Linked DNA regions of Homo sapiens. The protein of the gene in region 1 purifies or fractionates together with the protein of each later gene. This does not show direct contact. Each region holds a gene or a part of one and is shown on either strand. Other genes may lie near its edges.

The links.
Region 2: the proteins of RFPL2 (region 1) and PHLPP1 purify together in Homo sapiens (affinity purification with mass spectrometry; 3 studies listed by BioGRID and IntAct, with this or other methods). This does not show direct contact.
Region 3: the proteins of RFPL2 (region 1) and WDR73 purify together in Homo sapiens (affinity purification with mass spectrometry; 3 studies listed by BioGRID and IntAct, with this or other methods). This does not show direct contact.

Annotation. Positions count from the first base shown.
Region 1 is NC_000022.11:32,192,415-32,195,140, reverse strand, and holds part of RFPL2 (ret finger protein-like 2), read left to right. Parts: intron 1-650; coding exon 651-796; intron 797-1,948; coding exon 1,949-2,239; intron 2,240-2,726.
Region 2 is NC_000018.10:62,973,883-62,977,540, forward strand, and holds part of PHLPP1 (PH domain leucine-rich repeat-containing protein phosphatase 1), read left to right. Parts: intron 1-1,514; coding exon 1,515-1,743; intron 1,744-3,658. UniProt on the Homo sapiens protein: Protein phosphatase involved in regulation of Akt and PKC signaling.
Region 3 is NC_000015.10:84,641,382-84,644,288, reverse strand, and holds part of WDR73 (integrator complex assembly factor WDR73), read left to right. Parts: intron 1-565; coding exon 566-819; 3' UTR 820-2,907. UniProt on the Homo sapiens protein: Component of a multiprotein complex required for the assembly of the RNA endonuclease module of the integrator complex. Associates with INTS9 and INTS11 in the cytoplasm, stabilizing the INTS9-INTS11 heterodimer and blocking the active site of INTS11.

The DNA.
Region 1 (2,726 bases):
GCAGTAAAGATCCCACTACACAGAAAGGCATGAAGACGAAAAGATTCGGGGTTGATTCAAATGGAAGAAAGCACAACTCACTTCACGGGTAACAATTTTTATTTGAAAACACAGGTTTCACAAGAAAATCATCTTTTTTTTTAAATTGTGACTTTTATCTTAACACTCTGTGAAGTACTCAAGGTCCAAGAAGCTTAATGGTCATTTGTCAAAATAGTAATTATCTAATTTTTTCCTATGAATTATGAAATTTTTTCAAAGCCGGAAATAAACCAATGGAAACAAATAAAAAGTACCTAGAATTTCCTCAATGGAATGCCTGCCCTTATTACCTTTGAGTCTGATGTATATGAATTTAAACCATTTTGTAAAATTGCAAATCCAATCACACTTAATACTTTAGGATTCCAAGCAAAGCTTGAAGCCTACAACATATTACAGGAATTATCTTTACTGACAACTGATGGAAACATCTCTAAAATAAGCTTTTGAAGTTAGTACATTAAGCCTAATTTAATATAAAGGCAATTTAATCTTACCTTCATATGAAAGAAAAATACACTGTCAGGATGAAGGATTTACTGAAGTTATAATTAACTGGAGATATATCACCAGTAAAAACCTAATTCCCTGTTATAATTAAATCAAAGCCTCATCAGGTTAGAGGGTGTGGAAGGGCGTGACCCAGTGGGAGGTGGGAATCTCACCAATAAAAGGCCCTCGTGTGCCCCTTCCCCACAAGACCTGAGCGCCCAGTGGAAGCAGCTGGAGGACAGAGGAGCTTCCAGCAGAAGAGGTGAGCCCATGCCTGTGTGTGTGTTTTTCCTCTTAGATGCCTAGAAATGGGGGTTATGACTTGGGGGGATGAATGAGAGAAATTCGTAATTAATGAATTCAACAAAGGCCGTCTGAGTGCTGCCTCAGAGTTGGAAACCAGTCACCCTGGATCCCCAGTCTAGGAGTGTAAGAGTGGTGGCAGTCAATTTGGTATTCACTTCCAAGGCTGGAGAAGGATGTAATTTTTTTTATTTTTTTATTTTTTTATTTTTTGGTGAGACGGGTCTTAACTCTGTTGTCCAGGTTGGAGTGACTTGGCGTGATCTCTGCTCTCTGCTAATTTTTGTATTATTTGTAGAGACAGGGTCTTCCTGTGTTGCCCAGACTGGTCTCAAACTCCTCGGTTCAAGGGATCTTCCTGCCTCGGCCTCGCAAAATGCTGGGATTACAGATGTGAGCTACTGCATCCAGCCCCTCTTTTTTTTTTTTTTTTTTTTTTTTGAGATGGTGTCTCACTCTGTTGCCCAGGCCAGAGTGCAATGGCAGGATCTCGGCTCACTGCAACCTCTGCCTCCCAGGTTCAAGTGATTCTCCTGCCTCAGCCTCCCAAGTATCTGGGATTACAGGCATGTGCCACCACGCCTGGCTAATTCTTTTGTATTTTCAGTAGAGATGGGGTTTCCCCATGTTGGTCAGGCTGGTCTCGAACTTTTGACGACCTCAGATGATCCACCCACCTTGGCCTCCCAAAGTGCTGGACAGGCATGAGCCATCGTGCCCGGCCTCCCAGCCCCTAATTCTTATGTTCATCAATCAGTCTCTTGCTGGGGTTCCCCTAGGAGGAGGTGAAATGACCCCAGCTCGCTGTTCCTCACATGGGTGCTGCCATGTCACTGGCTCAGGCTCAGCTGCTGGGTCACCAGGAGAATGGACGCTTCCTCCACCTCAGCTCAGAGCACAGTGATGATTCGTGACTTTCCCAATAGAACTTCAAATCTCTGAAGACGGGGGGTGGGGGGATGTGCTTGAGTGTTTGTACTCATGGTCTTATTCTCGGAGTGACAAAGCTGGAACACAATACCTCTATGCATGAAAAGGTTGTCACTTGTCACAACTAACAGGCTTTCACCTCATGGAAATTTTTTTACCTTGTGTACTTTTCCCCTGGCAGTGGACATGGCTGCACTCTTCCAAGAAGCAAGCAGCTGTCCCGTCTGCTCAGACTATCTGGAAAAACCAATGTCCCTGGAGTGTGGATGCGCCGTCTGCCTCAAGTGCATTAATTCACTGCAGAAGGAGCCCCATGGGGAGGATCTACTTTGCTGTTGCTCTTCCATGGTCTCTCGGAAGAACAAAATCAGGCGCAATCGGCAGCTAGAGAGGCTGGCTTCCCACATCAAGGAACTGGAGCCCAAGCTGAAGAAGATTCTGCAGATGAACCCAAGGATGCGGAAGTTCCAAGGTAAGGCATCTGTATACCCTGCCCCCTTCCCAAGACCAGACCAGGAAAAATCATTTGTGCAGTTGGCCCCTCATTCCACATGGGGATTAGCTGCTGTCTGGCACCTAAAATTGAGATGCTTCATCATCAGATTCTCAGCCCTGACAACATACAGAATCACCTGGTGATGTCAAAAACAAAAACAAACAAAAACCCGATGTCTATGTCATGGGTTAGACAAGGGATTCTCTAAACTTAGTGTGCTCAGATTACCTGGGGATCTTGTTAAAATGCAGATGCTGAACTGGGAAGTCTCAGGATTGATCCCACTGGCTTGGGGACTTTGCTGAGTAGCAAAAACATAGAGCAACTGAATTTGAATTTCTCTCTAGCAAAGGTTCCCAGGACTCTAACATTAAAATGGGCCTGGTAATTCTAATGCACGGTGAATATTGGCACCCATTGTACAAACAACCTTACCCCAGGGTTGGGAAGAGTTGGGAATGGA
Region 2 (3,658 bases), on another chromosome or scaffold:
CTAATAGGTAGTGCAGCCAGGACCTGACCTCAGGTTGTGAGACTCCCTTCAAAGGATGTTGTAACTAGCAGGCACATCAGCTTTCCTGTTTTTACCACCCTTTTGTTCTAGAAAAACAGCAAGCATGTATCATATGCACACACATACACATGTGCATACAGACCACAGCACAAACACATCCCTTCACAACCCCCAAAAGGTCTGCTTTTTATGCACCCTCAAGCACTGGGTAAGAATTAAAAACTGAGAACCCCAGTCTCGGATTACTTGCTATACTTTTTACAAATCACTGTGCCTGTGAAAGGGAGAAAGTAGAGATGCCTTGGAAGGGTCTAGAGCCAAATATCTGAAAGTTGGAGTTTAGGAACCTAAACTATAGGCCCTTCTCCAGGGTCTTTTGTATGTCTCTTATTTTCCCTATCTGTTAAGAGGGTACGGGTTGTGTGGTGAGCTTTTGGTCCTTAGGGGAACTGGTCTTTGTGCGGGATTTCCTAATGCATGCAAGTAGGCAGCCCTGGTTTCCATTGCTCTTCTTGCCAGTTGCTTACCTTACACACGTGATAGGAGCAGACAGTACCTGAGGGTCTGCCCTTGTAAAACGGGAGGCTGTTTTTCTTAACTTTCTTGCTCCTGTACCACTCAGGAACAGCAGGGGCCTGGGCAGTGTTACCATTTGTGGGGCTTGCCATAGTTGTTCATGAGGCCATGGGAGCAATAATGGTCTTTTGTCCGTCTCTGCCATTTCTCTCCCTTGATAATCTGCCAGAACAAGTAGCTTTGTAAGAGGGGTTTTTGATTTTTGATTTTCAGAATTTGCAGGTGCTTTCTGTATTTGGTAGGTCTGTGGATTCTCATGATTAAAAAGATAAATCACAAGCACTTGGTATTTGATTACTAGAATGTCCTTTCTATGAGTTTTCTAGAATAGATGGTGCTGGTCCAGAAAGTCTTTACTATATAGGGCAGGAACATGAACACTCCAATACTTCAAGGCTGCTACCAGCAAACACCCTTATAAGGGGGAGAGGGTTGTCAGGTTTTTCTAAAGTGTGCCTGTCAGTGGGGTAGGGTGTTTATACCTGCTCTTACATACATGGTTTTTTCAATGTTCCTTTCCTGGGGACAGAGGGGATTTAGAGAAGCAGATGGAGAAAGAAGTCATTTTCCTGCTGTCTTTGGAGTGTGCTGATAGGGCAGTGTGGTTGATGAGGGTAGCAGGCTGTACACAGCAGCCCAGGGGCACCCGCCTTCCAGAGCAGCACCTGTGGCTTTTAATGGTACAGTGATACTGTCTTCCAGTTGTGAGCCTCTCTGTGTGGATGTGTGTGATGTCAGATTCAGGGGCTCTTTTCATCAAAGAGGCAGAGCAGTGTGTGCTTTGATGAAGGAGGCGGAGTGGAATCCCCAGCTGTCTCCTTCCTGGCCCTGTCCAGTGGTGCGGTCTTGCTGTTGAATTTGCAGAACTGGCACTGATGGGCTGTGTTTGAGTGTCACCCCCTCTCTTCGGATTCCAGGAAACTTGGAACTGCTGGGCAGAAGCTTGGTGGTGCCGCTGTCCTTTGTCATATCAAGCATGACCCTGTGGATCCAGGAGGATCCTTCACCTTGACCTCTGCTAATGTGGGCAAGTGCCAAACAGTTCTCTGTCGAAATGGAAAGCCGCTGCCTCTGTCCAGATCTTACATCATGAGCTGTGAAGAAGAGCTGAAGAGGATTAAACAGCACAAGGCCATTATCACTGAGGTGAGAAAACAGGGGTGTTGCCCAGGATGGTGGAGAGGAGAGGAGAGGAGACCAGGTCATAGCAGAAACTAGCTAGGGAGCATTTGCCTTCAAAGAACACTTTTGAAGTTGGTTTGACATTAGAATTCCAAATCCATAGTATCACAAAGCAGATGTCTTACATTATGATGTATATGCTTGTTGGTTGCCTCTCTGCATCAGGCACTGTGCTGCGTGCTTCATGGGCATGATCCCATTCCATGTTTGCAGCCACTCTGCAGAGGGCTGCTTTGGTGGTTGAGGGCTCTACCCCTGACATCACACTGCTAGTTTTCATATCTTAGCTCTGCCACTTGTAGGTTGTGACCTTTAAACCTCTCTAAGCCTCAGTTTTCTCATCTGTAAAGTGGGAATAATCATGCATCTGTCCTATCTTACAAGGTTGGTATGACTTGTAAACTATGAACGTCTATGTAAGTGTACTAGTTGTTATTTTGGTTCATACCTCATGTCCCATTTGAGTACACAGTAAGCAGTTTTCAACTGGGGGCAGTTTGCTTCCCCACAAGACATTTGGCAACATATGGAGACATTTTTGGTCATCACAGCTGGGGCGGAGAGTGCAATTGACATGCAGTGGATTGAGGCCACTGAGCATCCTACAGCGCTGCTAGGACAATGCTGCTCAACACCCCACAATGCACAGGGCAGTCTCCACAACACAGACTGTGGTGTGTGTGTTTGGAGGGCGTGTCTCAAGGAAGAGAAGTAAAATACAATACAAAACAAAACCTCGTTGTTGAGTATTAAGCAATGCAAACAAAAGCAGGGAAGAGGCGAGGCACAGAAAACAAGAGAAGTCTGACGTGCAAACCATGATTCATGTAGGTCACAGAAATCATTTACCTTCAATTGTGTTTGGCATAATGTTGAACTAAAGTTGAAATCAGTGCATTCTGTACACATTAGACTGTCTTCTGCTCCCTAGCACAGTGTCTACCATCCATGTGCATCCTCTCTGCTCCAAGAATAGACAGAGAACAAATTCACACAGACTCATTTGCACAGAATCCCATGTATAGCTTGAGTCTTTCTGTTTCTTTCTTAAGGCCCTCATCAAAGCCTGTGTGGAGTCAGTCTTTTTTCTCTACTGGACTATAAGCTTTCACCAGAGTCCACCCCAAACTGTACATGGTTCTATGGGTTTTATCAACAATGTAAGACTGGAAACCTCTTGAAGGTAGATGTTTCTTTGCAGGTCACTGCTGTCTGCCCACGTCATTTTTTCAGGCACAGGGCAGATGACTGACACTTTGATGAATTAGCGAATGGAGCAGAACTCCTGGAGCCCATGGTGGAAGCTTCATTGCTCATGAATCACAAAACCATTGGTTTTGATAGAGAGAAATCTAAAGGGATGGACAGAACAGCAAGAACAGTTTCTGCCAAATTCCATGCTTTGGGGACAGATTATGTCAGTAGAATCAAGGCAGTTTAAGGTTGTGCTTGAAGCCCATCTTACTAATTTTACTAATAGGAATGCTTACCTGCTTATAAGTGTGGTGTGGCAAAGTTGTGTGAGAAGCTGGGAAAGACATCCCTAGGACAAGTAAACACCTTGCCAAATCCCAAATAAAGGGAAGTGGTAGGACTGGAAAGGAAATGGATATTCTGTGGAAGAAACACTTTGTCATCCCAGACAGGGATTTGTCATAATGAAGCCTTTCCTGGAAAGAAGTGTTAAAACTAGGGCATGTAGAGGTATGTCATGGACCTGAGAATCTCAAAATTTGAAGAATAAAGAACCAAGCAGGTACACGTGGCAAAAAAAAAAAAAAAAAAAAAAAAACCCAGGTCTTTTTATTGGCAAGTGGTCTGGCACTTTGGTAATTGATTTAAATAGCATGCACACAGCTGAACTAAAGCCAGCAGATCT
Region 3 (2,907 bases), on another chromosome or scaffold:
CTCTCCAAAGGCTTCTGTTTCCCCCATCGAGTAGGAGACAAGGCCATCTGCTGAAAGGGACCCAGAGGTAGGGGACTGGACTCTGGGGCAACTTGAAAAGGTTTGAAGAAGTCTCTTAAGCCTCAGTTTCCTGGGTAAAATAACAGTATCTGTGTCATACAGTTCTGAGGATTAAAAGAGCTAATACTTGTCCAGAATTAGCCTTCGAGCCTCACGCATAACAGGTGCACAACGGATGCTCATGGTTACATGCCCCACGGAGTCATCAGCTGCCAACACTGAGGGCAGATGCTACTTGCCCGTGGTTAGCCTTTTAAGTGCCTTGATTCCTCATCCAATAGCCTGTTTTGGTACCATAGAACAAATTATAAAAAGTATTTTAGGGGCTGGGTGCCTGTAATCCCAGCATTTTGGGAGGCTGAGATGGGAGGATCGCTTGAGGCTAGGAGTTCAAGACCATCCTGGTCAACATGGTGAAACCCCATCTCTATTAAAAATAGAAAGAAAATTATTTTAAAATAAAATTAGGGACTCATTGTCAAGCCTCTCTTTTCTGTATTCTCAGGTTTTGATGGTACAGTCCAGGTCTATGATGCCACATCTTGGGATGGAACACGGAGCCAAGATGGAACACGGAGCCAAGTAGAACCTCTCTTCACTCACAGAGGTCACATCTTCCTAGATGGAAATGGGATGGACCCTGCTCCTTTGGTCACCACCCACACCTGGCATCCCTGCAGACCAAGGACTTTGTTATCAGCAACAAATGATGCCTCTCTGCATGTGTGGGACTGGGTGGACCTTTGTGCCCCCCGCTGACACCAGCATCTTTCCATCTAGGCCTCTAGAAAGGGGAGGAGCTGCTGTAGTAGCAAGGGTGCTCATGTAGGACTCAAGTGACTACCAGTCCCTGTTACCAGCTGTGTGGCCTTGGGCAAGTCTGCCAGCGTCACTTAGCCTCAGTTTCCTTATCTGTAAAATGAGGATAGTAAGAACTACCTCGTAGTGATATTGCGAAGGTTAGAAGAAACGCATGGCATAATTACTTGGTAGCTATTGTTAGATCTGGGAGTGTGAAATGGTAGCGTTTTGTCCCTGTCTTCACACTATCATAGGGAGAATCAAAAGAGCTAACAAATATAAACATGCTTTGTGAATTTTTTTAAAGAAAAAAATGTAGAGGGGCCAATAAACATGAAAAAATCCCAGCCCTAGTAGCAATTAAGGAAATAGCAAAACAGGATTTCTGCTCCTCTTGAGTGGGTCTCATGGGAACACAGGTGCACTTTCCCACACTTGTCCCCCCAGGTGACTAGGTTCAAGAGACATTTGCTTTTGGTGGCCCCACAAACATTTCCTTTTGAGGGCCCATAGTGAATATTAAAGTGTGCTGGACATGGTGGCTCATGCCTGTAATCCCAGCACTTTCAGAGGCTGAGGTGGGCAGATTGCTTGAGCTGAGGAGTTTGAGACCAGCCTGGGCAACATAGCAAGATCCCTTCCCTTAAAAAAAAAAAAAAATTTGGCTGGGCATGGTGGCTCATGCCTGTAATCCCAGCAATGTAGGCAGCCAAGACAGGTGGATCACTTGAGTCCAGGAGTTCGAGACTAGCCTGAGCAACATGGCGAAACCTTGTCTCTACTAAAAATACAAGTTAGCTGGTTGTGGTGGTATGAGCCTGCAGTCCCAGCTATTCAAGAGGCTGAGGTGGGAGGGTTGCCTGAGCCTGGCAGTTGAAGTTTGCAGTGAGCTGTGATCATGCCACTGTATTCCAGCCTGGGCAACAGAATGAGACCCTGTTACACACACACACACAAAATAGATAAGTTGTTCACTCTGTCAGCATCTATTAGCCCTTCCCATGTGCAACACTAATTACATGCTAGAAATACATAAATGAGAGGCTTCCTAAGGTGGTTGAATTTTTTTTTTTTTTTTTTTTGTAGTAGAGATGGAGTCTTGCTCTGTCACCCAGGCTTGAGTGCAGTGGCGTGATCTCGGCTCACTGCAACCTCCACCTCATGGGTTCAAGCAATGCTCCTGCCTCAGCCTGCCAAGTAGCTGGGATTACAGGCACGTACCACCATGCCCAGGTAATTTTTGTATTTTTGGTACAGACGGAGTTTCACCATGTTGGCCAGAATGGTCTTGATCTCTTGACCTTGTGATCTACCCACCTCGGCCTCCCGAAGAGCTGGGATTACAGGTGTGAGCCACCGCGCCCGGCCAGGGGATTTCTCCTGTGTGAATTCGCTGGTTAAGTGATAATTAACTGCAGTTAAAATTCAGGTCAAGCATGTGGCTCATGTCTGTAATCCCAGTACTTTGGGAGGCTGAGGTGGGAGGATAGCTTGAGTCCAGGAGGAGTTCGAGATCAGCCTGGGCACCATGGTGAACCCCTGTCTCTAAAAAAAAAGAAAGATTTTTATTTAAAAAACCTAAACAAATTCAGATAGGAATTTAAAGATAGACCAGGCACAGTGGCTCACGCCTGTAATCCCAGCACTTTGTGGGGGGCCAAGGTGGGTGGATCACTTGAGGTCAGGAGTTCAAGACCAGCCTGGCCAACATGGTGAAACCCCGTCTCTACTAAAAATATAAAAATTAGAGACGGGCATGGTGGTGGCACACCTGTAATCCCCACTACTCAGGAGGGTGAGGCAGGAGAATTGCTTGAACCTGAGAGGTAGAGGCTGCAGTGAACCGAGATTGTGCCACTGCATTCCAGCCTGGGTGACAGGGTGAGACTCCATCTCAAAAAAAATAAAATAAAGATAAAATCATAAACACTCATAATTCAGTTATACCTTTTTTCAAGTAACTAAAGTTCAAACTTACTTAGGGGAACAGGCTTTCCTGGGTGCCACCTGCTTCTCAAGTCCTGTGCTTTCCACACCACAGAATAG